4 linked regions of the Homo sapiens genome follow. The protein of the gene in region 3 interacts with the protein of the main gene of each other region in a pairwise test. Each region holds a gene or a part of one and is shown on either strand. Other genes may lie near its edges.

The links.
Region 1: the proteins of FAM124A (region 3) and ROCK1 interact in binary tests that used the Homo sapiens proteins (3 or more experiments, as listed by UniProt).
Region 2: the proteins of FAM124A (region 3) and ZNF250 interact in binary tests that used the Homo sapiens proteins (3 or more experiments, as listed by UniProt).
Region 4: the proteins of FAM124A (region 3) and FOXP2 interact in binary tests that used the Homo sapiens proteins (3 or more experiments, as listed by UniProt).

Annotation. Positions count from the first base shown.
Region 1 is NC_000018.10:21,101,516-21,109,234, forward strand, and holds part of ROCK1 (rho-associated protein kinase 1), read right to left. Parts: intron 1-7,719. UniProt on the Homo sapiens protein: Protein kinase which is a key regulator of the actin cytoskeleton and cell polarity.
Region 2 is NC_000008.11:144,884,263-144,891,981, forward strand, and holds part of ZNF250 (zinc finger protein 250), read right to left. Parts: intron 6,142-7,719; 5' UTR 6,088-6,141; coding exon 6,046-6,087; intron 5,813-6,045; coding exon of another isoform or gene 5,798-5,812; coding exon 5,671-5,797; intron 5,433-5,670; coding exon 5,319-5,432; intron 2,641-5,318; coding exon 2,578-2,640; intron 1-2,577. UniProt on the Homo sapiens protein: May be involved in transcriptional regulation.
Region 3 is NC_000013.11:51,217,325-51,225,929, forward strand, and holds the start of FAM124A (protein FAM124A), read left to right. Parts: upstream 1-5,073; 5' UTR 5,074-5,177; coding exon 5,178-5,245; intron 5,246-8,605.
Region 4 is NC_000007.14:114,627,306-114,635,024, reverse strand, and holds part of FOXP2 (forkhead box protein P2), read right to left. Parts: intron 6,486-7,719; coding exon 6,348-6,485; intron 5,434-6,347; coding exon of another isoform or gene 5,383-5,433; intron 5,221-5,382; coding exon 5,020-5,220; intron 3,498-5,019; coding exon 3,320-3,497; intron 1-3,319. UniProt on the Homo sapiens protein: Transcriptional repressor that may play a role in the specification and differentiation of lung epithelium. May also play a role in developing neural, gastrointestinal and cardiovascular tissues.

The sequences.
Region 1 (7,719 bases), on a different chromosome or scaffold from region 3:
AATACAGGAAGAAGTTAAATTACATCATTAGGAAAGTAAAAAGAAAAATCCAGAATGTAAAACAAGGTCCTGTATAGTACCACTGACCTAGTTCCTTCAACATGCAGGGGAAGGGGAGTTGGAGAAGTTGGGGGAATGAGATTTCTCTATATTAAGAGACTTAAAAGACTCTTAAAGGACCTAACCAAAGAAAAGCAACATTTGGACTTTGGATCCAGATTCTAATAAAGCAACTGTAAAATAGACACTGTTTTAGACAATCAGAAATATGAATATAAACTGGGAATTAATGATACCAAAGCACTTTTAATTTTGCTAGGCATGATAATGGCCATTATGATTATGTAAGAAAATGTCCTTTTTTTTTTTCAAAGATGCTTATTGAAGTATGTAAGGATGAAATGACAATATATGGAATTTACTTTAAAATATTTTGGTAAGAAAAAGGGTGATTAATGAAATCAAATGTGATGACATTTTGAAAACTGCAAAATCTGAGTAACAGGAGTTCACTATCCTATTTTCCCTACTTCTGCGTATATTTGAAATTTTTATCATAAAATTACCAAACAGAATGAAAATTCACATTCTTTCCACTGTAACTACAGTTTTCAAACTTGAGTGTGTCTAAGAATCCACATCTCATGCAAATCCTAAGAATCATCCCAAAAAATTGTGATTTTGTTTGTCTACGCAAGATCCCAGATTCCATTTTTAACAAGTGCCTCAAGTGAATCTGATACAATCTACAGCCTCATATCTGAAAACTATACACTTAATTGCTTTACTACAAGTAAACCAAACCTTAAAGGAAAGTCATGATCATATCTCTTACCTGCCCTTCACCATACCCCACTCCTATCTTAGTGTGATAGACATTTAATTAATCCTTTTCCTGACACTATAAATTCCATGAAAGTGGGACATGTTTGTTTTTACTCACCATGGTGTTCCATTGCATAGCAGAATTCCTAGCACACAGTACACACCAAATAAACATTTGTCAAATGAATGAATGAATAACAGAAAAGAGAAAAAGGAAAGTTAATTGCAGTCCACTGTTTCAAAATTAGTTTGAGGGCTGGGTGCTGTGGCTCACGCCTGTAATCCTTACACTTTGGGAAGCTGAGGCCAATGGCTCACTTGAGACCAGCCTGGGCAACATGGCAAAACCCCATCTCTACCAAAAAAAATACAAAAATTAGCCAGGCATGGTGGCGCTTGCCTGTAGTCCCAGTTACTCAAGAGGCTGAGGCAGAAGAATGGCTTCAGCTCGGGAAGTGGAGGCTTCAGTGAGCTGAGATCATGCCACCACACTTCAGCCTGGGTGACAGGGCCAGACCCTGTCTCAAAAAAAAAAAAAGTAGTTCAAGACAACAATCTGAGAAAATTTTCAATTTCTTGCCAAAAATCTGGTATCAGAAGTATGGATCAATTAAGAGGGGCACAGGTTGGCCTACCCTTAATATAACACAAGTATAAGATAAACTCTCACCTCCCTGAGATATCAGACTTTGGACGTTAATTTGAACATCTACCTTCCTATTAATTGTTTAGGAACTGTAATAAAAATACACTCTATATTTCATAATCCCAAACAGAGAGGGCAAGTATACTAGAGAAGAAAATCATATCTTTACATTTTAATAGATATACAAATAAAAAATTACACTTCCTATGTTCAGAAAGTACAAACCCCTACAATTATGAACGTAAGTCACAAATTCAAAAAATAATGGCAAATATAACTATTGAAATTAATTTAGGAACTAGTTCCAAAAAAAGCACTTACTAAAGATGGTTGACAGTCTTACATTTCTACCCCAACATCATTTAACTGTTTAAGTTTTATTTCTTAAATAATAAATCAAAGACAATTTTTTGAAGTTTTAATTGAAGTGTAATAAACAAAGTCTCATAGATTTTGTTTAATAAATTTTATTTTATTATTTTTTTTTTTTGAGACAGAGTCTCACTTTGACAACCAGGCTAGAGTGCCGTGGCACCAACATGGCTCACTGCAGCCTCAATCTCCTGGGCTCAAGCGATCTTCCTACCTCAACCTCCCAAGTAGCTGAGACTACACCCAGGTAATATTTTTATTTTTTTTGTAGAGCCGAGGTCCCTCTCTGTTGCCCAGGCCGGTCTCAAACTCCTGGGCTCAAGGGATACTTGCACCTTGGCCTCCAAAAGTGCTGGGATTACAGACCACCATGCCAGGCCTATCATAGAATTTTCAGAGACACAAGAGACATCAGCAACTATCTGGTCCAACTCTTTGTTCTACAAATAGGGAAACTGAAGCCTAGATGAGAAAAATGATGTACTTCATTACACAGAGATTTAATAGCAAAACAAGACTATGCTCTGAATTTTCAGTCCAGTGTTCTTTTCACACCACACTAATGGCATATTTTTAAGAATACTTTCCATTGTGAATTGCAGTACTACCTGTTCATCTTCTTGAACACATGTGTGTCGTATCCAACAGCTATACTGTGGACTTAAACTAAATGGATATACCCCCTTTTTAGTGGGGATGAGGAATGGAGAAGTAGAGCTATTGGATTATCTTCAGCAATAGAACTCTATATATAATATTTCCTGATAAGTGGGTTTTTCTATCAATTATCGTAATAGAATCTGTAGTTTTCACCATATATCCATAACACCAAAACTTATAATCGTGAAGCAAAACTGGTGTAAAGTTATGCAAAGTCTAATCTAAAACTGAGAATTTACTCTTTATTCAACATAAAATTTTATATGTAGTTCCTTCTTCTGGATTAAAAACATTTCTGGGCAGGGTGCGGCGCTCATGCCTGTAATCCCAGCACTGTGGGAGGCTGAGGCGGGCGGATCACGAGGCCAGGAGATCGAGACCATCCTGGCTAACACGGTGAAACCCTGTCTCTACTAAAAATACAAAAAATTAGCCGGGTGCGGTGGCGGGCGCCTGTAGTCCCAGCTACTCAGGAGGCTGAGGCAGGAGAATGGCGTGAACCCAGGAGGTGGAGCTTGCAGTAAGCCAAGATAGCGCCACGGCACTTCGGACTGGGCGGAAAAAAAACATTTCTGACTCAAAAGATTAATGAATTAACCAATTCATATCTCAGCCGTTACTCTGAGCCACGTCTCTACACACCCACAGGGTGCCTGTAGTGCAAGAGGGCCTATTTACAGAACACACACTGAAAGTATAAAAGATACACACAGAAAGAGAACAAGATAACAACTCAATCTCCATAAATTAGTTCCCAATTGCCTTTTATATCCAACTAAACCCTTGGCACAAAGTATATACCATATTATAAATCACAACTAAACAAATAAACAGTCTCTAAAAGATCTTCCCCATTTATTGAATCTATTAATAAATGTCTCAATTTTCAGTTACAATTGGCTTAGACGTCAATAACGCACAGCTAGATTATGAATTTATGAGCGGCTTGAGGTGCCAGATAAATTACTCTGTACTTAGAGACGACAATAAATATCAACTTCTAGACTAAGCACACTGACTAGTATATAACAGAAATATTATAAATATGACAATATTACAAATGCTTACTAAATACCAAATGCTATGATAGTTGCTTTGACTATATTATTCAATTCTTACAACAATCTAGTACTTTTATCCCCTCTTATTTTTCTGAAGATGAAACAGCATTGAGAGGTTAAAATAACTCCCTAAAATATTTCAGCAAATACATGTCAGAGCCTAGATTTCAATCCAAGTTTAGGCCCTATACAAAGATTTGCTGAATGAATAAAAATGAATTAGGAGAGTAACTTGTTTTTTTAAAAGAAGTTCCTGCAACATACTAACATCCAAAAAAGTCTGGTCCAAACTAACCAGATATGCAATTGATACTAATAACACCTATTAACTCACAAACTAGGAACACTGGCAGAGATACAACTTTAAGGCTCAAAGATTTAATGACCTCAGGTCTTTTCATTCCAAGAGTAATATACCCCCAAAACAGATCAATTCAACTGGCAAGGCATACAGGGGATTAGACAGCAATAATCCAGATTCGAAAATGCTACCCAAAATCTGCTGTAATAACCCAATGTGTGGACTAACACTGTCAAAAAAGTTCACAACAAAAATTTCAGTTTAGCGACAGGGACAATAGTGGAATTAATGACAAAACAGATAAGTTTATGGGAGGAAGCTTGTTTTGGAATATGAGGGATTTGAGACTAACATGACATCCAAGTAGAAATGCTTACAAGGCAGTCAGATATTTAAGGTTTGAAACAAAAGACTAAAAATAAAGATTTGGGTATCATGTACATAGAGATAATAATAATTGAAGCTGTAAGAATGGATGAATTCTTCAAGAGAGTGAAGACAAAGATAAGTATGATAGGCCAAAGATTGAGGAAAAGAAAAAAAGAAGAATGAAAAGATGGGAAAGCACTAGGTCAAGAGAGCCCAGGAAGATAATTTAAAGGAAGAAAAACTCAAAGACTAACACCAGAAATTTCATTTACATTTATCTTCCACATTCTGAAAAACTCCCTAATAAGAAATAGTAGTGACAAACAGCACAGTGTTAGAACTCAACAGGCACTATTTGACTAATACTGGTTCCCTTCTGTCTCCTCCGCTCACCCGTTGCTACACCTCCACCAGCCAGAAGAGAAGTGGAAAGGTCATGTTCTTAACAGGCATCATGAAGCGATGTGCCAATAAATATGCTACAAGCAAGATATTTTCATGAAAAGTATGTCAAACTTCAAAACAAATGTATCTATAACCCTCCCAACCATTTTTGTTTTTCCTTTTTTTTGAGACAAGTTCTCACTGTGTCGTCCAGGCTGGAGTGCAGTGGCACAATCTCGGCTCACTGCAACCTCCCCGTCCTAGGCTCAAGCAATTCTCTGGCCTCAGCCCTCCAGGAGCGAGCCACTGCACCCGGCCTTGTTTTTCCTATTTAATTTACAAATCATAAGCATTTTTTCCTCTGCAAAGATTAAATAGACTTAACTAAACTCCATCCCTTATTCTGTTTTCAAAGGTACTCAAAATCACTGAGAAATTATTACAGGCCCTAGACAAAATAATTAGAAGATAAGGAAGTCCGGAAAAGAGAAATAGCTCCCGATAATCCTTATAAACTGTAACATGGACAGTAAGAAAGACAACCATTAGGACACTGGAAAGAATCTGACCTACAGAAAACCAAAGTTGACTAATTTGAATGCTCTAGGAAACAAGTGAATGGTTATCATAATGTATCTTAGTATTTGCAGACTATTTTAGCATTTATACATGATATGAAGATTGAACTTACTTAGTTCTTGAAAAAAATTACAGGTGTTCGAGAAAAGATTGGATAGCCACTTATCAGAGTTCTTCCAGCTACATTATTCTAAACTACTGCAGGTTGAGTATCCCTTGTTTAAAATGCTTGGAACTAGAAGTGTTTCAGACTGCAGACTTTTTCAGATTTTAAAATATTTGCATATACATAAGATACCCTGGGGATGGGGACCAAGTCTAAATAAGAAATTCATTTACGTCTCATACATACCTTATACACAACAACCTGAAGGTTATTTTTTGCAATATTTTAATAATTTTGTGCATGAAACAAAGTTCTGACTGCATTTTGACTGCAACCCATCTCACAAGGTCAGGTGGATTTTCCACTTATGGCGTCATGTCAGCACTCAAAAAGTTTCAGATTTTGAGCACTTCAAATTTCAGATTACGGATGCTATTCATCATTAGTGTCTCAACAAAAAAGCTGTTTAGTAGGTAAGGTAGTTTAAAAGGACATACACCAGCAAATTTCTGAAACCAAAAGATTTGGAAGTTTCCATTTCTAAGCATGAATCTAGTAAAGGAGGTAGAGAAGAAACAATTTGAAAACCTTATTTTTGGGATTACAAAAACAACTCTAGAACTAAAGGACTGCACGTGGCACATAATACACACTAATAAGTAAGTATCAGTTACACAAATCAACAAAAGTCAAAATAACAGAAAAAGGCAACCAATGTAAAAGGAGTTTTGTTCCTATAATACATGAGAGGTCCAAAGTCCAGATAGGGAAGAACAAGAACAGACTCACTGAAAAAGCTGAAGTCACCTGATAGGTCACCCTGAATGACACAATGAATGAATGAACGAACGAATGCTCAATGTTAAACATAAAACATCATGCGAAGAAAATTCATGCTAGATACTACAAACCCAGAAAAAGGATTTTTTGTCTCTAAAGGAAATTCAGTCTTGGGCCAGGCACGGTGGCTCACGCCTGTAATCCCAGTACTTCGGGAGGCCAAGGCAGGCGGATTCCTTGGGGTAAGGAGTACAAGACCAGCCTGGCCAACATGGTGAAACCCCATCTCTACTAAAACTACAAAAATTAGCCAGGCGTGGTAGTGCACGCGTGTAATCCCAACTACTCGTGGGGGCTGAGGCAGGAGAATCACTCGAACCCAGGAGTCGGAGGTTGCAGTGAGCCAAGATCGCGCCACTGCACTCCAGCCTGGGCAACAGAGTGAGATTCCATCTCAGAAAAAAAAAAAGGAAAATTCAGTCTTTACCAAGTTCAGATTGACGGGGTAATAAAATTTCAGTAACAGCTATCAATAAACAGCTGTGGAACTAAACAGAAAAAGAGGACAAGATTATAAGATTTGAAGGGGAAAAAACAACCAAATCTGTCTGTTGACTATTCTCTTTAACAAAATGTTGTTTTAGAAGTGTTGGGCTCCATGATACCTGGCTGTCCTAACTCTGGAGGCCTTGATGGCTTACCTCCTCCACTCTTCCTCTTTGTTCAACCTTCATCTTTCACCCTCATTTTTCCCTCCATTGTTTCTCCCTTTACCATTATATCAACTTGCACCTTTGTGCAAATGACTTCTAAATCATTATCTGTAATTATGAGCTCAGTTCTGTATCTCCAACAGTCTACAGGTCATTTTCTCATGATTGCTCCACTATCCCCTCAAACACAACGAATCTAAAATTGAATTTATCTGTAGGCCTATTCTTCACAAGCAATTTCCAAACCTGACTTTGCTATTTTTACCATTCTCCCTATAATCCAGGCTCAACCTCTTTAGAGTCATCTGACTATTGCCTCTCTCTTTGGTTCCCCATCTTTTCCCTGCCAATAAAGTTCCATTAATTCTTCTTTTCTCATTCTCATGCCCCAATTTTGGGCTTCAATCATTTCTGGACTATTACAATAATAACAATTTTAAAAAACTGTCCAATCTCACTGTCTCTCCAATCTTTTCCCATGCTAACCCATCTTCCACACACCAGATTCATCTTCTTCATTCATCCTAGCACGGTCTTATTTATAAATATTTAATAGCCACAACAGTGTAAAGGCAATCCAAAATCCTTAGCCTACCAATCAAATCCTCCACAATCTAACGCTAATATTTCCTTCCAACCTTATCTTCCTTGTTTCCCCAAACATGTCATAGCCAGTCATGTCTCCACCCTCTATTCACGTTATCCTCCACTCCTCTTGAGTACCCTCTACCTAAATCCTATCCATCCATTATAAAACATACTTTGGCTCTCTCAACTCACAGTGACTTCTTTCTCTCAATTTCCAAGAACATACATTATCTAAACAATCATCTGGAATTTATCACATTTTCTCAATCTGTGAAGTGTTTAGCTTTGTTTCTGTGTATATATGTGAGACAAGGTTTTGTCTTCCATTAAATAGA
Region 2 (7,719 bases), on a different chromosome or scaffold from region 3:
TTTTTTAGAGACGGAGTCTTACCCTGTCGCCCAGGCTGGAGTGCAATGGGACGAGCTCGGCTCACTGCAACCTCTGCCTCCCGGGTTGAAGTGATTCTCCTGCCTCAGCCTCCCCAGTGGCTGGGATTACAGGCACATGCCACCATGGCTGGCTAATTTTTTTGTATCTTCAGTAGAGACAGGGTTTCACCATGTTGGCCAGGATGGCCTCAAACTCCTGACTTCGTGATCTACCCACCTCGGCCTCCCAAAGTGCTGGGATTACAGGCAGGAGCCACGGCGCCCGGTCCTGAATTCTTTTCAAATGTTTTTTTAAATCATGAAGCATGCTTCTGTGAAGATTCTCCTATGTTTCCTGGTGCTTACACACAAATGTCCTTGCTGTATACATATGCAAGAGTGGGAAGTGGTGAACATAGGAATTCATGTTTTCGATTTTTTTTTTCATTTTTTTTACCTCCATTCTCTCAGAATGTGATCATGTTTTCAATTTCATTGGATAATGCCAAACTTTTCCAAAGTGGCTATGTGAATTTACATCCCTATTAGCTGCCCTGCATCCTCACCCACATGTTATATTGTCAGATCTTTCCATTTTTTCCATTCTGAAGGTGTAACATCATGTCACAGTGGTTTTGATTTCCACTTTACTGATGAATAATGAGGCTGAGCAGTTTTCTTATTTATTGGCCCTTTGGTTTTCCTAATCTATGCAGAAATTTGTGCCTACTTTTCTTTTTGGGTAATTCTGCGTCTTTTTATTCTATTCAGAGGAATTTATTAAGTGTATTGACAAATTGAAACAGTGAGAATTTAACAGTTTTTTTAATAAAAAAATTTAAATTCACTGTCTTCAGTTTAATACAATTTTTTTGAGACAGAGTTTCGTTCTTGTTGCCCAGGCTGGAGTGCAATGGCACGATCTCAGCTCACCGCAACCTCTGCCTCCCAGGTTCAAGCGATTCTCCTGCCTCAGCCTCCCAAGTAGCTGGGATTACAGGCATGTGCCACCATGCCCAGATAATTTTTTGTATTTTTAGTAGAGATGGGGTTTCACCATGTTGGCCAGCTTGGTTTCAAACTCCTGACCTCAGGTGGTCCATCTGCCTCGGCCTCCCAAAGTGCTGAGATTACAGGCATGAGCCACCACCCCCGGCCCAGTTTAATACAATTTTTAACATATCTCATTTTAGAAAGTCACTCTATGTGGGTTTTTTTTTGAGACAGGGTCTCACTCTATCACCCAGGCTGGAGTGCAGTGGTGTGATCATGGCTTACTGCAACCTCAACCTCCTGGGCTCAAGGAATCCTCCTGTCTCAGCCTCCATGTGGCTGGGATTACAGGAATGCACCATCATGTCTGGCTAATTTTTAATTTTATTTTGTAGTGTGGGGTCTCAGTATCTTGCCTAAGCTGGCTATGTGTTTTTTAAACTGATAGAAGTTTTAGTTCTTTCTTTTTTTAATGTATAAGCCTCATCTTCATGGAATAAAAGCCTATAGGCTAAAGAAATAGTTACTCATTTACACTGAAAAGTATTACTTCTATTGTCTGAAGTTTCACCCGGTGTGGTGGCTCATGTCTGTAATCCCAGCACTTCGGGAGGGCAAGGTGGGAGGATCACTTGAGGCCAGGAGTTTGAGACCAGCTTGCGCAACATGGTGAAACCCCGTCTCTACAAAAATTAGCTGGGCATGGTGGTGTACACCTGTGGTTATAGCTACTCTCGGGAAGCTGTTGTGGGAGGATTGCTTGAGTCCAGGAGGTTGAGACTGGTGAGCCGTGATTATGCCACTGCACTCCAGCCTGGGCAACAGAGTGAGAGCCTGTCTAAAAAAAAAAAAAAAAAGTTTCCTGAATGGGCGGCTTCTGACCTGATGCCAGGGTAACAAGATAGACAAGATGTCTTTAATAATAAAAACACAGGCCAGGCACAGTGGCTCATGCCGGTAATCCCAGCATGTTGGGAGGCTGAGGCAGGAGGATTGCTTGAGCCCAGGAGTTTGAGACCAGCTTGGGCAACACAGCAAGACTCTGTCTCTACACTGCACTCCAGCCTGAAAAAAAGAAAACACACACACACACTAAACTAACTGCATAAGAGACTACTCGCTCAATCATCCATGGCACGAAAGCATCATATGACTGCTTGTGAGACAGAATCAAGTTGCTGTGAAGGCCAAACTTGCCTGCACCTTGCATCCATACTGTGCAGAAGCTGGACTTCAGCCAAGAGTCACTTGCTTTTAGAATAATGGTTTTGGTTGTTAAGTATAAAGTAGGGAAGTATGTTTTAAGCATGACGGAACAAATAAAAGGAAACAAAATGATTTCACCGAAATAAATGTTTAATTATAAAAACCCAGTAATCTCTCTAGGCCTACTATGGCTCACAAGAAAAGGAAAAATGTTTTAAAAATTAAAAACACAAAAAGCCCCTCCCTGGTGTTTTGTAGCAATTGTGTGAGTTGTTTAACACGCTTCATAGCACCGAGTCGCCTCTACATTCTTGTAAAACATTAGTGTTAACACCTTCAGAGATTGTACTGAATTAAAAAGATCAGGCATACACTTACCCCATGGACAAGATAAACTGTCTTGTTGTGTACAGGCTGTAGTGTGGTCATATTTGAGGTTGTCTGGAAAAAAAACAGCGAGTTGAAGTGACAACAAAATACTCCCTTCAAGAGTGGAAAATCCTGGCCGGGCATGGTGGCTCACGTCTGTAATCCCAGCACTTTGGGAGGCCAAGGTGAGTGGATCACTTGAGGTCAGAAGTTTGAGACCAGCCTGGCCAACATATAGTGAAACCCCGTCTCTACTAAAAAATACAAAAATTAGCTGGACATGGTGGTGCATGCCTGTAGTCCCCACTACTAGGGAAGCTGAGGCAGGAGAATCGCTTGAACCCCGGAGACAAGAAGTTGCAGTGAGCCGAGATCACACTACTGCACTCCAGCCTGGGGGACAGAGTGAAACTCCGTCTCTCAAAAAAAAAAAAAAAAAAAAAAAAAAAAGAGTGGAAAATCCTTTCGTTGCTATTACAACATGTAATTTACTGAGTTACAAACAGCAGGGTCAGGGCTGGGCAGGTGCACACACTTATCCATCCTGAGGAACTGCCAGGACAAGACAAAGGCATATCTACTCCTCGCTTGCTCTGATGCTAGTGGCAGTGATCCAGGTTGTGGCAGGTGGCTTCTGTTTCTATGCACATCAGTAATCTAAAACTCAGTCCCATCGTCCTCTGTGGCCTGTGTTAGAGGTGAGGGGACCAGGTGCTTCCATGAAAAAACTTCTCATCTCCAACCAGCCATGCTCCCAGAGAATTTCACAGTCTCTGTGGTGTCAAATCAAAGGGCGCTCAAAGGCAGTTTAAGCTCTCCATCAGGCGAGTACATAGCTGGACACAAGGGAGCCCAGGACTGGTTTGGCAGTGGCAGCAAAATGCCCTCCTGTGTTTTCTTGTCTCCTACAGCTGCAGTCAGTAAGCAGAAGTTCTATGCAAGATTTCCAAGACATGATGATGTGTCTTCTTGTATAGTCACTGGAAAATTAAATTCCTCTAAGGCTGGCATGTACCTTGTTCCTCTGAGGATATCTGATTTTGCAGGCCAGTAAGAGGTAGACTGTAATACCTGGTGCCCTATCCACATAAAGCTACTTTAGAAATAAGGAGGAGCTTTCAAGGGGAAAACCACCACATCTGAAATGCTGAAGCTGATCAGCCAATGGAGGTGTTGCCCAAACTGTCCCTACTCTCCCCAAGTGGGGCACATTATGGCAGGACAGGCTGACTGAGGTTTTCCTAAGACTCAGACGTCACCTTACTGAAGTCAGAGGTTCTTTGCCTTAAGCAACCGCAAACATGAACTTCAGGGTTGGATCTATGCACCATCTTTCTTTTTATAATTTTCTCCATCTAAAGGTCTTGTACATCTTTTGTTAGATTAATTCTTGGATGCTTTATATTCCTGATGCTATTATAAATGTTATCTTTTAAAATATTACACCTTTGCTGGTTGCTGACAAATATAAATAAAACATTTCTGGCCAGGTGCAGTGGCTCATGCCTGTAATACCAGCACTTTGGGAGGCTGAGGCAGGTGGATCACTTCAGGTCAGGAGTTCGAGACTAGCCTGGCCAACATGGTGAAATCCTGTCTCTACTAAAAATACAAAAATTAGCTGGGTATAGGGGCATGGACCTGTAATCCCAGCTATTCGAGAAGCTGAGGCGTAAGAATTGCTTGAACCCAGACGGCGGAGCTTGCAGTGACCCGAGACTCATGCCACTGCATTCCAGCCTGGGCGACAGAGCAAGACTGTCTCAAAAAAAAAAAAAAAAAAAAAAAAATTGTATCCAGCAAAACTGGTAATTTCCCTTGTGAATTTTAATCAATCATTTTCCAGGTTGACAATCACATAAACTGCAAACAATGCTTTTTTCTTTCTAATTCTTATAGCTTTGGTTTTGCCTTATTTTTATTTTTATTTTTTTGAGACAGAGTCTCATGCTCTGTCCCCCAGGCTGGAGTGCAGTGGAGCGATCTCAGCTCACTGCAACCTCTGCCTCCCGGGTTCACGCCATGAATCTGGGAGTAGCTGGGACTACAGGCCTCAGCCTCCCGAGTAGCTGGGACTACAGGTGCATGCCACCATGCCCGGCTAATTTTTTGTATTTTTAGTAGAGACAGGGTTTCACCGTGTTAGCCAGGATGGTCTTGATCTCCTGACCTCGTGATCCACCCGCCTCAGTCTCCCAAAGTGCTGGTATTACAGGCTTGAGCCACCACGCCTGGCCGGTTTTGCCTTATTTTGTACATGGGATACCCAGTACAACATTATATGGACATGGGGATGGCGGGCTTCTTTGTCTTGTTCTGAGATGAAACAGTGTGCTTTCAGCACTTCACCTTAAGTGTCAGGTTGAGACACTTCCTTTCCACATTTAGGATGCTTTGTTATTTTCTAAATCATCAGGTAACTCTCAAAACCTGAATGTCCTATTAGGACCAAATCTGGCTAACCAGTCCCTCTGGTCAGGGACAGAATCACTGCAGCCATGCCCTAACTTCCTCTACATGGCTCTGCACATCAGCTTGTTGAAATTCACTGCTATGCTCACTTCCAGCCATGGGCTGCCACCTGATTCAGCAACCCCCAGTCTATAGACTCCTTTGCCAGATAAGGCCAGATAAGGTTTTACTCCAGGTGGAAGCCACTCCAGTGAGCGGCACAGTATGAACTAGGTCCACAGCTTTGCTCAGGACCTGTTTAGCCCTCAGTGAGGGAGGGGCCAGCTCTCCTCACTCACCTGAGTAGTCACTCCACAGGCCCTGGCTCTTCTTAGCCCCCTTCCTGTCCAGGACCCAGGGATCTTCCCCTCGCTCCAGCTGGGAGATTATGTCAGGCTTGGATCCTGGAAGTCCTGCTCGTGGGGAGGGAAGTCTTTGTTTACACAACATTTACAGAGCCCCCTCCCCCTGCCCAAGCCACTTGTGGGGACATGAAAATGGACAGGACTGATCTTCTGCTGGAGCTGAGCACCCAGAGAGGTGATGAGAGCAAACCTCCAGGACCAGCCTGTCCCAGGCCCCGTACCCTGAGAAGCCCCCACCCCAGTCCAATACGCAGATACATAGACGAGGCCTGCTAAGGTGGCTTACCCAATGAGACTACATTCCCATAGGTTTCCATCATCACATTTCTGTAGAGACCCCTCTGAGCAGGGCACAGGCGGTCCCATTCATCCTGGGAGAGGAGCACAGCCACATCCTCGAAGGTCAGCTTGGCCTGGAACGACAGGGGCTGCTGCAGGTAAAACCAAATCCTGATGTCTGTGATGGGGAGTGGGTGCATGTGACATGTGACATGAGCAGTTGGCAGTGGGGGGCTCTGTGAGCTGAGGTGGGTGATGGGAAGGGGCCGCGGAGTTCAGGGCATGTGGTGACGCTCTGGCTGCTCTTAGGAGCTCTACGGGGCACGGAAGGAACCACAGGGCTCGGGCTGGGGGCACTGCATAAGCACTGGGGACAGCTTACCTGGGGTCCTGCCGGCACTGGCAGGAGTCTGGCTGCTGCCATCACCTGGTCTCCTGGGGACTCCGAGGATCACGGAAATTGAAGGAGCCTATGGGGCTGAGGAAGAGGAGGGGGCAAGTGAGGGGCATGGCCTTGAGACCGTAACTTCCTAGGGGGCCCTCAGGGGATCCCTGGGCCTCATTCAGAGTCACTGAGGGGCACACTGAGGTCAGGTGCAAGGAGCTGCTACTGTTGCAGCCTTGGTCTGCCTTGCCTCCCCCATGAACTCTGACCCTATGGTTCAGGAGCCTGTCCAGGCCCTGAACACACAGTTCCTGGGCCTGCCCAGCTAGTACTGGGCTCTCTGAACACCAGGTGCAAGGCACTTGCTGCACCCTGGTCCCGGCCCATGGTCCTGCCATACACAAGGATACCAGCTCACCAAGGCTCTGTGTGTTCTATACCTGAGGCCCTCACACAAGTACCAGACTGTCCGCAAGTCATGTGGGGGATACAGGCATCAGGCCAAGCTGCTTCCCCAAACACCCTCCCAATTAAGAAAGCCTTGGCCACCAGGGTGACAATAAGACTCCCCTCACCCCACCCTTAGGCAGCCCTAGTGCCCCAATGTGGCACCAGGTTCAACCAGGTATTTGAAGGGGAGGCATGGAAGTGGTCAGTTCTGGACAAACTGAGTCAACAGTGGCCTAGGGATCTGGTCTGAGCAGCTGAAGGAAGACTTGTCATCAAGTGAGAAGGGGATGCTTGGGGTAGTGGGGCTGGTGCTGGAACGTAACAGGACAAGGTAAGCAAAGGTATCTGACACACACCCAAACAGCTGGGAAAAAGGGGGAGCGGGGCAAGAGCTTTCCTGACACATTTGGTCCTGTACAGGATAGGGTTCGCAGTCTTCTGGAGCATCAAAAAGAAGATACTGTGACAGGGATACAGAAACCAACCAGGTGACCAAAGGTGGTAGATCACTCCAGAAAAACGTGGTATAACAAAGCAACCAATCCCCTCACATGCTTGGCTCAGATGGGCACCACAACAAACAGGGTGCTTTAAGAGTGACAAAATAGGTGTCAGGGCTGGGGGCAGAAGTCAAGGGACATCATAATCTCAGTGTCTATAAAACATCAGATATAGGTGGGCGCGGTGGCTCATACCTGTAATCTCAGCACTTTGGGAGGGTGAGGCAGGCACATCACCGGAGGTCAGGAGTTTGAGACCAGCCTGGCCAACATGGTGAAACCCCGTCTCTACTAAAAATACAAAAATCAGGCCGGGTGCAGTGGCTTATGCCTGTAATCCCAGCACTTTGGGAGGCCGAGGCAGGCGGATCACCCGAGGTTGGGAGTTCGAGACCAGCCATGACCAACATGGGGAAACCCCGTCTCTACTAAAAACACAAAATTAGCCGGGTGTGGTGGTGCACGCCTGTAGTCCCAGCTACTCAGGAGGCTGAGGCAAGAGAATTGCTTGAACTCAGGAGGTGGAGGATGCGATGAGCCGAGATCATGCCATTGCACTCCAGCCTGGGCAACCAAGAGCAAAACTCCATCTCAAAACAAAAACAAAAACAAAAATCAGCTGGGTGTGGTGGCGGGTGCCTGTAATCCCAACTACTCAGGAGGCTAAGGCAGGAGAATCACTTGAACCCAGGATGTGGAGGTTGCAGTGAGCTGAGATCAT
Region 3 (8,605 bases):
TGACATTCCTGTGGACAGGGACAAGAGCACTGGGACAGTCAGATGCAGAACCAGAAAGAGGTCATGAAGAAAGATTCAGATATGGAAGCTGACCACAGAGTAAAATGATAATACCCAATACTTCCTATGTGCCAGGCACTATCTCAGTACTCTCTGCGTGATAACATCTCAGTCCTCATAAAGACCTCAGTATGCCTGCGATGCAAACAACTGAGTCCCGGAGAGGTTAAGTAACTTGCCCCAGTTCACAAGCCTAGCAGGTGATAGAGGGAGAGGGAAGACTTGGGCTTGTGCACTGTGGCTGGAGAGAAACTCAGTCTTACCCATGATAAGATCCTGCCTCCCACATGATATGGCTTCAAAGGCAGTGTTATGAGTCGAATTGTGTCCGCCAAAATTAATGTGGTAATATCCTAATCCCCAGTACCTCAGAATGCGACTGTATTTTGAGACAGGGTCTTTAAAGAAGTGATTCAGGGCTGGGCGTGGTGGCTCATGCCTGTAATCCCAGCACTTTGGGAGACCAAGGTGGGCAGATCACAAGGTCAAGAGATCGTGACCATCCTGGCCAACATGGTGAAACCCCGTCTCTACTAAAAATACAAAAATTATCTGTGTGTGGTGGTGCACACCTGTAGTCCCGGCTACTCGGGAGCCTGAGGCAGAAGAATCGCTTGAACCCGGAAGGTGGAGGTTGCAGTGAGCCAAGATTGTGCCACTGCACTCCAGCCTGGCGACAGAGCGAGACTCCATCTCAAAAAAAAAAAGAAAGAAAGAGAGAGAGAGAGAGAGACAGAAGAAAGAAAGAAAGAAAGAAAGAAAGAAAGAAAGAAAGAAAGAAAGAAAGAAAGAAAGAAAGTGATTCAGTTACAAAGAGGCCATTAGAGTTGGTCTTCATCTAATCTGACTGTTTAATTTACAAGAAAAGGAAATATGGACACACAAAGAGACCCAAGGATGCACACAGATAGAAGAAAGATACAGCAAGAAGGCAGCCGTCTGCAAGCCAAGGAGAGGCCTCCAAAGAAACCTATCCTGCTGACACCATGATCTTCTACCTCCAGCCTCCAGAACTGTGACGAAATCAACTTCTATTGTTGAAGCCATGCTGTCTGTGGTACTTTGTAATGGCAGGCCAAGCTGACTATCAGGCCGTTGGAGCTGGGGAGGACCAGGTGCCTGAAGGAAAGTGTCAGGATGAAAGTGGACGGAAGGCCAAAGCTTTCCAAGCCTAGGTTATTCGTAGAACCATAAATGGGTGACTTAGCCACAGTTCCCAGGAGGCGTGTCTATTCACGGGGGACTGGAGGGCAGTGCCCTGAGTCTAAGGTTCCCTTTGATTCTTAAATTTCCACAGCACATTTCCGGAAGCCAGCCTTTCACATTCCCATCTCATTTTACGCCCACCCACCCACCAGTTGTTGGGGGTCACAGTGGGTGGGTGGTCTGATGTCTGACTTGGACTCCAGATCTCGTCCGGGTATAAACTGCAGGCTGAGAATTCTTGGGAAGCCTCCAAGGCAGGACCACTATCTGTGCTCTTCCTTATCAAAGTGGAGTCATTTATATTTTAATGAGATTATTTCCCAACACAACAGTTTATCTTTCATTTCATTTATCCCTTTGCCATCTGGTCCCCTTATGTTTGCATGTAGGGCTAGTGGCTTTCTTTGTCTAAGTAGATTTGTCAATAGTTTATAAATTTTCTTCTCATGATCATAATATTTATTTTTCACATTAGACAGACTCTTCTGGAGTCTTGGAAGAAAGAGATTTCTTTTTTTTTAATTTTAATGTCATTCTTTAACCTGTAATTTTTGTTTCTGGGAAATGTGTTTTCAAAAAGTAATTAATTAATTAAAATGAATGAGCAAAAGTTTCCAGACCAATATATTTTCTGGTTCTATTTGCTACTGGATAACCCTAACAAATATTTTACTTAAGGGACTAAATCAAGCTCGCCTAATAGCAAATGGTACAGATGCAATGAAAGTGGCCTAGCTTCCCTCTAAACTGAAATCCAAATCTGGGCAAATTCTATGTTCTGGAGATATTTATTTTTATCTGTTTTCAGTCTCTTGCTGTAAAGTTCTTATCTTAAAGCTACTTAGCTCCTCTTTTTTTGGCCCCCTCCCAATTACTCTTGGCCTTCTTAATTACTAATCCATCTCTTTCATCAGCAAAGTTGATGGACTCTATTTACCATCCGATTATCTTAAGTTTTTTCCTCCAAGACAGGGCTTTGGCATTCCAGTCCTATTCTAATGGCTGATGGCACTACATACCTCTCAGGTGCCTGGTGGGAAGGCCAGCCATGCCCATTGGCCTTGCCTTCTCTTGACCCAAAAAGCTCCATTAGGCCAGAAAATAGCTCTGGCCTATTCCTCAACATATCCCCAGCACCAGCCCCTGCCTAGTACACACTGAGTGTTCAATAAATAAATGAATGAACTGCCTTGTTTTCTAACACACCAACACATGCAATAATATAAACAGAGACTGAAACATGCTTTATAGGTGAAATACAACAAAAGATTGATGTTCAGACCTTTCTGAGAAAAAGTGATTAAAAAATCAGCAATATCTTTTATTCATATGCTTCGTAGTTTCTAAGGGGCTTTGAATCTCCTGTGAGATTTATATCAACAACCCCATTTTAAGGACAAAGGAAGCCTCACAAGAATTTTGTGAGATTTAAATAAATCATGTATGTAAAATCCTTACCACAAAGACTGACATGTAGTAAGAACTTTGGAAACAGTTGATGGTCTATCCTTTTTCTCTATCGAGAGTTTAAAGAACTAGTACATGATGGATTCCGATCCAGAAGTCAGGTTTCATGTTTCCTAGCCTGTTACACTTCCTGCCATACCTCAGTATTCCCCCAACACTGTTCTCAGGCTCTGATAGGAATATCTTTAGGGCAGCAGTCAAGACACCCTAAGCAGACCAGTGACACTTTTCTGTCCCCATCTTAAAGGGGTGGAGGAGAGCATCGTACCCCCATGATTAAAGAGACTGACATTAAACAGCTGGACTATGGAGTGTGGGAACCATGTAAGTTTAGGGGCTAGATACCCTGCAGTGATCACTTGAAGGTTCTTGTGCTGGTTACCTGCCAGCAACTCTTATACCCCGCCCTCCCAAAAAATGGGCCAGGTGCAATGCCTCATGCCTATAGTCCCAGCACTTTGAGAGGCCGAGGCAGGAGGATCACTTGAGGCCAGGAGTTCGAGACCAGCCTAGGCAACATATTTTTCTCTACAAAAAAATTAAAACTCAGCTGGGCATGGTGGCACGCCTGTAGTCCCAGCTACTCAGGAGGCTGGGAGGATCACTTGAATCAGGGAGGTGGAGGCTGTAGTGAGCTGTGATTGTGCCACTGTACTCTAGCCTGGGCAACAGAGTAAGACCCTGTCTCAAACAAACAAGCAAAAAATGAAGTGAGGCTTTTAAAACCTGGGAACTGAAGCAGAAAGCCATGCATCACTAGAATACAGTGATACCGTTCAAGCTTCTCTTCCATATAATAAATGCATCACTGAGTTGCCATTAGACTGCTATGCCAATGATGAATGATAACACTGTGTCCCCTGTGGGCGAGGGGAACCTGAATCCATGCATCATTTTGAGATGTGGCTTGAGGTTTTGGTCTGGCATGCCCTTTCTCTGGATATTTGAGAAAGGCAGAAATCATTTAAATAGCATCTCATTTTCCAAAGCCCATCTTCTAAAAGTCATGCTGATTTCACCCTTTCTTCCCTGGCCTTTTCCTTAGTACCATCTTCCTGAGGATACAACTGGCCCACTCATCAGCCTTCTAGGTAAGTGGCACAGGCTCCAGCTACCTTAAGTGGACTACCTGGCTTCCCTGCTCACTGATAGGGTGTCCTGGGACCAGGCACTCGAACTCGGTAGGGTTTAGTTTCCTTGACGGTAAAATAGAAAAGTAAGCCTGTTTCACAGCACTTCCCTGAGGATCAAATGAGGCACAGTTTGAATTGTTCCCACACAGAGTAAATAAAGGCAGGTTCCCTCCTGGCTGCAAGATAAAAAATGGGCAGGGGAATCTCCCTTGAAGAACTGGCACGCTCCTTTCTTTCAGCTAATGCCCACCAATATGTCCATTGCTGTTTGGGGTGCAAGAAATTTTAGGCTCAGTAAGGACAATTCCTCCCAATGGTTTGGATAGGGCTGTCAGAACTAAATTCAAGTTGTTCGAAGTCTCCTTCCGCCCGCCCTGCCAACTTGCCTCCCTCTTCACCCTCCTAATAGGAGGTGAGCCCCTCCAATAGCGATCATTAACTCACCCTAAGGTTATCCCCTTGCTGCAACAACCCGTGAATTGCAGGTTCATTCAATGCTCTTTAAATTATTTTTAAAGGCTTTTTTTTTTTTAAGTAGCAAAAGAATGCATGACACCTATTGTAAACTGGCAAGTTGAGGGGGTGGGATGCCGCTCAGACGTGTACTGAGAAAGGTGATAATGAATTTGGCGTCAGCAATTCTTCAGAAACTATAAGAAAACACCCAGGTGTTCGAATTGGTCCCAAAAGGGAAACAAATCCTTCCCAGCTTTCACGATGCGCTGAGGTTGGTTTTCTCAGTGCTCCTCCCAGATCAGGAGGTGGGGAACCTCGTGGCAAGCCCTGGGGCTCGGGATTCCCGGACTGTGGGCCTGGGGGAGAGAGGCGGCTCTCGTGTGCACACTTACCCCGCCCCCACAACACACACGCGGTCACGCACCACAGACGGGCACACGCGCTCAGCACAGCCACAGTCGCGTGCAACCAGGAGTGCACACCGCACCCACATCACACCGCATGCACAGACGCACGGGTGTGAGACCACACACCTCGGCCACTCACGCTCACACGCCCCCCACGCGCTCGCACACGCGCTCGCACGCGCACTCCCCGCGCACCGCCGCGCGCACACGCGGGTCCCGCCGGACGGCGAGGGGCGGGGCGGGCGCGGGCGCAGGCGCGGGTGCCCAGCCGGGCGCGGTCGGGAGAGGGCGCGGCGCGGGGTTCGCGGCTGGCGCTTGAGTTGTTTGCCGGCTCCCGGGCCGCCAGACGCTCGGAGGGAGCCCGGCCGGCTCGGACTGGGCGGCCGGGAGGGAGGGCGCCCCGGGTCACGACGGCGCCCGCAAGCCGAGCGCGGCCGGGACGTGCACCATGGACCCAAAGGCGGGCGGCGGCGGCGAGGAGGACGACTGCGTGGACTCGGGCGCCGAGACCGGAGGGTGAGCCGCGCCGGGCCGGGCCGCGGGCGGGGGGCGCTCTCCGAGTTGCGCGGCGGCTCCTCCCCGGACGGGGACCCTCCTGATCCGTGCGACGGGACCGGGGCGCGGGGCTTCTCCTCCTGCCGGATCCCCCGCTCTCTCCTGGGCGGGCCGCGCTGCCCTGGGCAGGGCGGGCACCACCCGGGGGGAGGAAAGTGGAAGGACTCAAGGTTCAGTGCAAGCCCACCCATCCTGTGAGGCGATGCAGAGCGCCAGGCGGATGCAAAGACCCCTTGTCTGCATCGCTAGAGACAGGAGATGCTCTTGCACTTGTTTCCTCCTTCCTCGGGGACTTTCCTCCTGTAGCTCCGGAGCCCCCTGGAGTCCGGCCCTGGAGATCGGGAGAGGAAGAAAAGCAGGGTGGGACACCCGCACCTAAAAGTCTTTCCGAAGTCGGCTAGGAGGATGGCATTTCTCGTTATATGGCTTCATCGTGGGACTTTAATCTGTGCTGCCGAGTCCCCCTCCCCGACTCCTCCAGTCCCGCCGAACTTCCTCACCTCTAAGTGCACCTGTCCCAGCTGGACCCTTTGGCCTGTTGTACCGGCGGGATGGAGATGGTGTTGGGATTAGGATCTAGCCCTGCCTTTTTTTTTTTTTAATATTCTCTTCGCTTCAGCGGACTCAAACAATGGGCTCAAACCTTTGGAGACTAATTAGTTAGTCTCCAAACACTGTTTTCCTGAGCGGAAGAAAAGACAAAATGCCTTTTAGGAGATGAATGTCGTTATAAAGGCTTCCAGGCAGCCTCTGTCTCTAAAGGACTTTCCTGTGCAGAGTCAGCACCACATCCAGGCCGCGGGTACTGACCCAGGAGGAAAGGGTGTTTTTTCCTATCTGGAGTAATCCTGGGGGAGGGCGGGAGCTGCCTAGACTACAGAAAGCCTCATTCCTGGAAGGTCGGAGAGGTTTTAGACTAATCTCAGGATTTGGCAACCCTGTGAGGGCAGGTAGAGAATCCAGGCCCACGATCGACCCAGAGTTCTAACCCAACCCCGGCAAAGCTCCCCACAGGGCCCCTCCTGCCCCACCACTCCTAGCCCAAATGCGGGACTTTACTCCCTAGGGCATTCACCCAGCAATGGGCTTTCTCTGTTATCCAAACTTATTCATAGCTCTCTACAGCACCCAATTATAATCTGGTGGAGTAACCTGATGCTAAATGCCAAACTTCCTTTCTTCTTCCCACTCTTTGTGTAAGTGGCATTTATCAACTTTAACAAGATTATTGGCTTTTTTTTTCTGCCATTAGTTAGCTGGACCATGAATAGAAGAAACAAAGCAAAATTAACCAGCTTATTTGTAACTGCGTTAAATAAAGCATTCACTAGTCTATTCATTTTCAATTTGCAGAACTCACCTAAAACTGATATTTTTTTCAAGGGCTCTGTCTTAGAGAAGGGAGAGGAAGTCCTGGACCCAGGGGGTGACATCGCCCCAGGATCTGGACATCAGCATGACAGCGGCCAGGCCTCCTGGGAGGGGCTCCCCACTCCTGCTGACACCAGAGCTTCTGTTCTCAGCCTCTGTCACTAAAATGTGTAGTTGTAACAGGACAGAATTGTTTAAAGAATTCTTGGCCAGGTGCGGTAGCTCGCGCCTATAATCCCAGCACTTTGGGTGGCCGAGGTGGGCGGATCACCTGAGGTCGGGAGTTTGAGACCAGCCTGGCCAACATGGAGAAACCTCATCCCTACTAAAAAATATACAGAATTAGCCAGGTGTGGTGGCGCATGCCTGTAATCCCAGCTACTCGGGAGGCTGAGGCAGGAGAATCGCTTGAACCCGGGAGGCGGAGGTTGCCATGAGCTGAGATCACGCCATTGCACTCCAGCATGGGCAACAAGAGCAAAACTCCATCTCCAAAAAAAAAGGAATTCTTACTGTATCACTAGTATCCTTAAGCTAAAGGTAAAATAGCATGCATTTCAATGTATGCTAATTAGTTTTGTGTTTGCCATATATTCACAGAGCCCTTGAATTTCAGTTATCAAAAAGCTGTTCATCGTTTCCCTGCTTTTCCAGAGCTTGCCCCCACCCCTTACCCTATCCAGCTTTCACAGAGATTATGTAGAAAGCACATAGAAGACAACAAGTGTTTGCTATCGTTAGTATTTTTAAAATGCAAATCTGATCATGTCTCTCCCTTTCAAACTTTTATGGCTCTGTTATCTACAAATGCAAGGAATTTAACGTGGCCTATATGCCCTGACTCCTGTTATGGAGTCCCTTCTTCCCTCCCTGGCCTTGTTTCTCAGCAGGTCCTTCTTTGCGCCTTGTATTTTTCTGTTTCCTCGCCTTTGTCAAGCTGCCCTCTTTGCCAGCTCTGCCCTTCCCACCTGACTTGCCTGTCTGCCAGGTGAAACTCTACTCTTCTTTCAGGACTCAGCTCAAGTGACACATCTGCTAAGGCAGTGATCCTTAATTTGGGGTCCATGAATTCCTTCAAGTTGTATGCAAAATGATGTGCTTTGTGAATTTGTATGAGAAGAGAACTTTTTTTTTTTATCAGATTCTCAAAGTAGCTGGTGATCTATTCCAAACCAAGTTTGGGCAAGATATGAGACATTTCATTTTCAACACACTGTGTCTGAGGTGTTGCAAGACATCCAAGTAAAGATGATGAATCAGCAGTTGGGTATATCTGTCTGGAACTCAGAAGGGAGGTCTTCATGATGACATTGCATTTGGGTACTATTTACCTAAAAATGGCAATGGAAGCTCTGGGAGAGACTAAATCAACTGAAGGTAATAGCAAGCACTTTCTTAGCATTTAGTATGTGCCACCTACTGTTCTAAGCCTTTATGTATTTCATGGACTCCTCGAATCCTTCAACAACTCTGTGCAGCAGGTGCTTTTTAAGACCAGCCTTGAGAAACTATATTTAAACGCCCAGTCAATGAGAATGAGCTGATAAAGGAGCCTGAGAAAGAGTAGACTTGGAGTCAAAGAAAGAAGAATATGAATCATTGAAGCCAAGGGAGGTTTGAGTTTTTGAGAAAGGAAGGAGAGATCAACTATGCTACTGAGAAACTAATGAAGATGAGGAACGCTAAATGTCTTTTTTAAATGGAGATGATGAAGTGAAGGAAGAGTGGTATTTCACAGCGGGGTGGTGGAGGCAGGAGCCAGATTAGAGTGGCTCTAGAAGGCAGTAGAAGGTGAAGAAAAGGAGACAGGTGGATTCCTTTGTCTGGAAAAAGGAGAGGCAAAAAGAGGCAGTAGCTAAAGGGGAGAGTGGAGTGAAGAAAGATTTCTTAAATATAGGTGCTAATTGAGCAATCAGTGTGATAGAAAGGATTCTATAGAAGGGGGAAGGA
Region 4 (7,719 bases), on a different chromosome or scaffold from region 3:
CTGTTTGGTCTCTCAAATTGGAAAGGAAAATCTTGTCTTCTAAATAACTTTTATAAATTAAAAAATATGTAAAAACTTGGAGTGACAGAAAATCATCACCACATGTATTCCTATCCATATAGTCATAGTAAATGTGTGAATATATTGTGGATTAGAGTACACAAACGTTTATCGGATGTCACAAACATATCAATGTTTAAAGTTAACTTCATCTTTCCTAACCAATAGACAATTATCCTGGTTCATTAAAATGTTTCACTAAATTTCATTACTAGATAATATATAAACTATGTTATTCATATATTACATAGATTTATAATCAGTATATTATTCAAGATGGAACTATAAATCCATCCTTTCTATTTGACATATGTATGTATATACCTATATACCTATACTTATGTATATATCTATCATCTGTCTGTATACAAACCAAACATATACTTAGGAGATGGAAGTTTACTTGCCTAACTAAAATCCAATATTATAGTAATATTAATGATGACCTTAAATGATTAATATTTAAAATAATTTACACTAAGATGATAAATATAAAACTTTAGAGAGGAATGTAGATAAATCTGCTATTCTACCAAAATTCTTATAATTTTATTATTTCTCATTGTTATATACATATATTTTAATATAATTTAAGAAGCTGTAACTCTAAAAGTAGCATGAAGAAGTTGTGTTAAATTATAGGGACAAATAAAATATGACATAGTTTTAGGTCGAGCACAGTGGCTAATGCCTGTAATCCTAGCACTTTGGGAGGCCGAGGCAGGCGGATCACTTGAGGTCAGGGGTTAGAGACCAGCCTGGTCAACATGGTGAAACCCTGTCTCTACTAATAATATGAAAATTAGCCAGGCGTGGTGGTGGGCACCTGTAATTGCAGCTACTCGGAAAGCTGAGGGAGGAGAATTGCTTGAACCCGGGAAGGCGGAGGTTGCAGTGAACTAAGTTAGCGTCACTGCACTCTAGTGTGGGTGACAGAGTGAGACTCCTCAAAAAAAAAAGAAAAGATACAGTTTTAAAGACACAATGAGAACATCATCCATCATTGCACATTAATCCTACTTGGTTTTTATATGGCTATTTTTCAAGGCTAATCAACCAATCAAAAACCTGGTAAAAAGTGAACTGGAAACTGATAATAAAAATATTCAAAATACTTTTACCTTAACCTCTAACTAAGGAAGAAATGATTCAGGGCTTACACTGTACAACAAATATTTCTTTACTTTTTCCCCACTCTAGTTTTGGGATTCCAGCATAGTACCGTAACGCTAGGTTCCTTTACTGTAGCTGGTGTATTCAACACACAATGAGCCTCCACAATGATATTTTTCACACTTAATCATCTAAATCGTAAAAAACAAGACAATGATGCCGGTTTGTGTGGCTTACATGGCAACAACACAAACTTTGATCGGTGAACCAACTACATTTGTGGCCCTACAATTATTCAGATGGATTTTTTTAACCTATATTAATGAAAACATAGTTGAGTGATTTCATCTTTTTTCCTTTTTAAAATATAAATTTTCTGCTCAAAGACAGATGTTTTCAGATTTACTTTCCTTTCCCTAAATGTTCGCCATTTTCTCATTTTATCTCTCATATATCTTATCAAGGATAAAAACAGAAGAAAAGAGAGAAACAAGGATTCTATGAAAATAAATTTTAATTTGAATTCAGGTAATTTCTATTTGAAAACTATTAGAATGATTATATCATTATAAATTTCATTGTTCAGAGAGATGTTTTTTGCTTGTTTTGAAAGAATGTGGTTTCACAATATGTTTTAAACAAGTTACACTGTGTTTCTATTAGCACATATTTTAAACTTTCTTAAAATGTTTACTTGAATTAATAAAATAAGATTGTGGTAGATCATGCTTTTCTGTTGAGGAAATTCTCATATAATTATATCCTAAATACAGATTTCATTTGAACTTGACTGAAAACAAAAACAATATTTTTTCTGTTTTAGTATAGTTTCTATTGAAGAAATCCATGTTTACACTGAAATAATTTTATAAACTCTTTTCTTTTTTACTTTTTCATGTCTTTAAATTGTATTTATTTTTCTAAAGAAGAATAATTGTGAATAGAACATTCATTGATATAATGACGCTATGATTTATTCCAATTTTCTTTAGAATATTTATTCCAATATTCTTTAGAATAACTCAGAAAAACAGGCTTATTGCCTTGTTTTTCTTTTGCTATTTAAACTTTATCTTTTTTGATTTCCTAGGAGTGCTTCAATCAGGTGAATTAGAAGATTTGAAGTCAAGTGAGAGAGGAAAACCAGGGGGAAAAAAGCCAAAGAGACATTAATTTGATAAATAAAAAGAGAGAACATTACCACGATACTCCTGATTTTCTTTAGTATGTCCTTTAGAATCAGCAAAATGTGCAGCCAATGCTACTACAATATGAACTCCTCTGTGACAAATATAATTAATTTGAATTAATGTACATTTGGATTAATGTTTGTCCCAACAAAATCCAAATGCAAGTTAGAATATCCCTTTATGAAGTGTAATGATATATAACTTACCTGAATTGAGAATTTTAGCACACAGTCATTTGTTTACCATTATTTGTCTTTTATAATTTAAAACTTTCCATTTCCCAAAAGTGAAGGGTTATGAATATGACACACAATTGTATTATCAGAGTACCTCCAAATTTTTCTTACAGAAAAATAAGAATACAGTTGACAGATTTTTTAAAACTATAGTTTACAATACATGCATAGGCAATGTTATTTGAGAGAAAAAAGAATGGATATGTCCTGTGACATAGGATGGGGTTCTACAAAGCTTAACTTGGAATGTGCTCTATAGAAATTCATGAAGCCTCTCTTTAACATGTGGTGATTTCAGTGTGAAGATTAGGAACTTTTATCTTTCTTTTATCAGTTGTCCACCAAACTCCTATCAGCTCACTTAGTTAAATGGACTGCTGTCAGCCTTCCCGGTAATCCAATTCCCTGCAGATCCTCCTGTATATTCAATAGTGCTTGAATTGTGTTGCCCTTATAAATCATTTTGTGCCCATAAGACTAATAAATACACATTTAATATCTAACAAAAACTTGAAAGTTTTACTTCACACTTGAAAGCAGTATATGGTAAAATTTCTGAGCCTCTAGAAAATAGGTCATGCCACCATGTTAACAATCACGTTTTAATAATAAATTTGAAAGTCATAAAAACAAAATTTCTCAAGGTATAAGGCAGAAAGGCCATGAAATGGTAGAAAGTACAAGATTTGAAATGAAGAGTGCACAACATTTTGTATGTACCTTGAGGCAGCGATTGGACAGGAAGTGCTGCCTGGCCAGGTGGAATGGAGATGAGTCCCTGACGCTGAAGGCTGAGCAGATGCTGCTGCTGCTGGAGTTGTTGCATCTGGAGAAGCTGCTGCTGGAAGACAAGCTGCTGGGCTGCCAATTGCTGTTGCTGCTGCTGCTGCTGCTGCTGCTGGTATCAGAAAACCCAAACCAGTAAACAGCAGAGAACATGGTCTGTACAAACAGCTCTCTTACAGGGAAATGCACACTCCTTTCATTGCCTGAGTGGGTTTTTTGGTCATCCCATAGTCAAAGTTCAGGGGCAGAATGTGAGTAAGTTCTAGATTTTCAGTTGCCTTTCTTTCAATTATTAAATCGTGTTAGAGAACCAAGGAACTTGCATCAAAAAAGTATGGAGCAAGGTCTAGAGATAGTATGTAATAAAGGTTCAGCTTTTTAAAATCTACTTATTGTAGATAATAATACATTTCTCTAGATTAAAAGAACACTACTTTACAGAAATAGTCAACTTCTACGACACACTTTTTTTTTTTTTCCAATTGAATAAGTTTGATCTGCAGAGGTCCATGAATGTGGTCTCTGGTGATCTATTAGTAAACTGGGATGTAGCCTTCATAGGATAGGCCTGTTAGCTCTCTCTCTCTTCTCCTCTCTTGTTGGAATATATTAAAGGCAGAATTACGTTCAAGGCAAAATTAAAAAAAAGTGCCCTTATTATAAGAAAAAGTATAACTTCCAATTTTGTGAGGCATTACAAGACAAACCAGAGGTCTTTGGACTCCAGAGGGTATGAGATGGCAGTCACACTTCAGAGAAAGACAAGCTGCTGTGGAAGACCTTTCCTTTTTAGTTTGGGGAAAAGAGAAACTTCTGATGCGCTCACTGGAAAACAGACTGCATAATGGAGCAAGTCATGTGGATTGCCCAAAGCCTCGGGAGAAATAAGGGAGCAATTTCTATTCTGTAGTTGATGGCTGTCTGAAATTCTATTCACAAATCCAAACAGAAACAAAGCCTCAGGAGGTCAAAACTGTTTCCTGTACGTTTGCATAATGGGCAGCTTGAAGACAACGGCTCTGATACCTGCTGATCAATTTAACTACTTCAACATGTTTTGTTTGTATTATGTTTATATTTGATGCAGTTTGCTGACAAGTGCAAGCTAGGCCTGAGAAGCCCGCTTGTCAGTTTGATTTATGAGCATATCAAACTGTAACTTTCTACTCGCCACTCTCAACCTACAGTAGCAGTTCATTAATCAGGGGCCTGTGACTTTGAAATCTGTGCTCAACCAGTTTCTCCCTTAGTCTCCCTATCCCCAACAATAGGCCAAATTTGCATGCATGTTCTCTGAGCTGCACCACTGAGAAAAATAAGGTTCCCTCACCAACTTAGATTCTCCATGAATACAAGATAATCAGTACTTTGTCCACCACACAGCTTGCTCTTTGTACTGTGATTCATTAGTGAACATTAGACGACAGCAGCATTAGATTGTAACTCTCAAGTCCCATGCTACAAAAAAGGAGAGCCTGAGAGCCTATCACTGTTACTAAGCTCAGTAAAAATATATAATACTGCAACTTTGACAGCAAGAGCCTTGTTATAGGAAGATCTAAGACTATTCTTGCCGCTCAAAGCCCCTTCTTAACTGCAAACTGTTATGTATCAATGAGATAACCGGATCCTACCTCTTTCGCTTGCTTTCCAGGATGCTGTTGCTGCTGCTGCTGCTGTTGCTGCTGCTGCTGCTGTTGTTGCTGCTGTTGTTGTTGTTGTTGCTGCTGCTGTTGTTGCTGCTGTTGTTGCTGCTGCTGCTGTTGCTGCTGCTGCTGCAAAAGCTGAAGATGTAACTGCTCTTGCTGTTTCTTGTAAAACTCTTGTAGTTGTTGCTGAATAAACCATTTTGACTTTAATAAATAAAGGCAAAAGTTTCACGTATTATAAATCTCCTAAACTCTTCTAGACTGGCATATGGCAGAGTATCCATTAAGATTCATCCCATAAAAACAACAAAAAATATACATTGGATTCAAAGAGACAGCTCTACATACATTTTTTTCCAAGGCAGCTCTGAAATTTTCCAATCCAGAATCCAAAAAATCCTAAACAAAAGGGTATAGAAAGTCTGTATTCTAAAGGGTCAGAGCCAAATTAATACTTTAAATTATTACATCTGAAGTCCTACTGACACATAAAAACTAGGCTATACTCTACCAGTTGTAAGAATAAAAATTTAGCTACATAAAATCAGGTTGCTCAATTCTTATTGGAAAAAACTTAATCCATCAGATGTTCAGAACAATGTCAGATTTACAAGTAATTGGTCTGTAGTCATCAGCACAGAAGTTAGCAAAGTAATTATATATAAAAAATTTCAGGTAAAGCACATTATTTTCTCTCTAATAAGTAAGTGTATAATATAAAGTCTATATACACTCAGGGTTCCGATATGGTATTTATTAGGAACACTATGTTTGTTATTTTAAAAAGATAAATTTCATAAATTTGTGGCTCAGCTGCCTAATTTCATTATAATAAATAGATTCTTCTCTTTCTAAACGATGAGTATACTATGAAAAGGAAAATCTGGGATGTTACTTTCTCCATTTTAACAAAGTGGTCTATTCAAATTTCATACTTTTGTGAACTAAAAGGAATGCTAAGGTGTTAGGAGTTTTAAAAGCAACTATTATCTGGTAAGTATTTTTGCATTTTTTTGGCAAGTCAACAAATTGAATGTACCTAAGCATTTGAATATTTAAATATTGGCTCATTCCATTTTCAAATTACACCTCTCTCTGCTCTTATTCTAGACTTTAATAATTTTTTTAAAAAAATAAGCAATCTAGATTTTCTTACGAGTTCTATAATTAAAATGTTACATTTATGTTCTAGCACGCTAATAGGTTGTCCTTTCAAATGGAGACTGAATTGTCAAATATGCCCACTGCACTTTCAAAATAAGTGCACACCTTCTAAGTCATGCTAGAACACCAAAGCAGGTAACCCACATTACCTGCTGCAGCATGACAGCCTGCTGTTGTTGGAGAAGGGCTTGTAGCTGCTGAGGAGACAGGACTTGTTGCTGAAGGATCTGCTGCATTTGCTGAGGGGTGATCACCTGGGGAGTCATCATGGCCACTGACACAGGCACCTTGCACAGAAAGAGAAAGAGAAAGAAAATTCGTGGTCATAACCAAATATCTGTTAATCAACTTCACAAATAGTATGTTATCTTTTATAAATTCTTTAGCATTGATGATCAATAATTTTTACGTCACATTTTACTATAACTTCTTTACAATAGTACTAAAGTATCACAAAACATAGACACTAGCTTTCCAGAGGCATCAGATTTCATCAAACTCTTTATGTTCCATAGCTCTTATTTAACATGCTTAGATATTTGAATTTCGGCTATAATATCTATAGTTAAAAATAAACAACCACATGGTGGTGTTCTCAATATTTCATAATTGATCATCTCATCAATGTCACTGTGCTATAAATACAAAGGTTTTTGAAATGTCTTAAGTGTAATTAAAATAAATATTAAAGATTAAAAAATTGGAAATATGCATATAAATGTTATCTAAACTAGTAAAAAGCATGTATACAGTATACTTACTTAAAAATATAATCATCATCTTCAAAATTTTATATACACATGATAAAGTACTAGAAAATAAATATAGTAATAAAATTTAGCATATGACAACATGTGATAATTCATATAGGAGATATATATATATATGTGTGTGTGTGTCTGTGTGTATATCCAGAAAAATAATGACATACATAGGTCTTCTGAAAGAAGAACTCATATAACTAGTATTCTAGCTTCTTCTTTAAACCTTTTCTTATTTCAAGCAACTGAGCTTATAATAGGAAGTACAAAAATTTAGCAATTACTCAAAGGTTATTCATTAAACTGAAAATAATAAAAGTAATTTACTTAAAACTTTTTTCCCACTACTTCCTTTTTCTTCAGGGTTCTGAGGATGAGAGGCAAAAAGAAGATAGGGAAGGAGAAAAAGATATAAAGGAGAAAGAAGGAAGGAAGTAAGGAAAACGTAGAAAAAGGACAAGCTAGTGGGAAAGCCCTAGAGAAAGACAGAACGGATGTGAAGAAATAGGAAGAGGATGGTAAGAGTGGTGATCAGAAAAACTGGTATAGAAACCTAAAGTATATGCTCAGATAGAAGGCAAGTAACACTGTTTGAGGCATTACTTGTACTAACCAGTATGCAATCAAACAACTTGTCAACTTTCCAAGTTTGCAACCTTTGAAATAGTAATCACTTTCCTAGAAAAAACAATTCACTTTTACTGTAAATAAAAGCAAGTATTTATATAAATACTGTTTTAGAACAAATTTATTGGGCAAC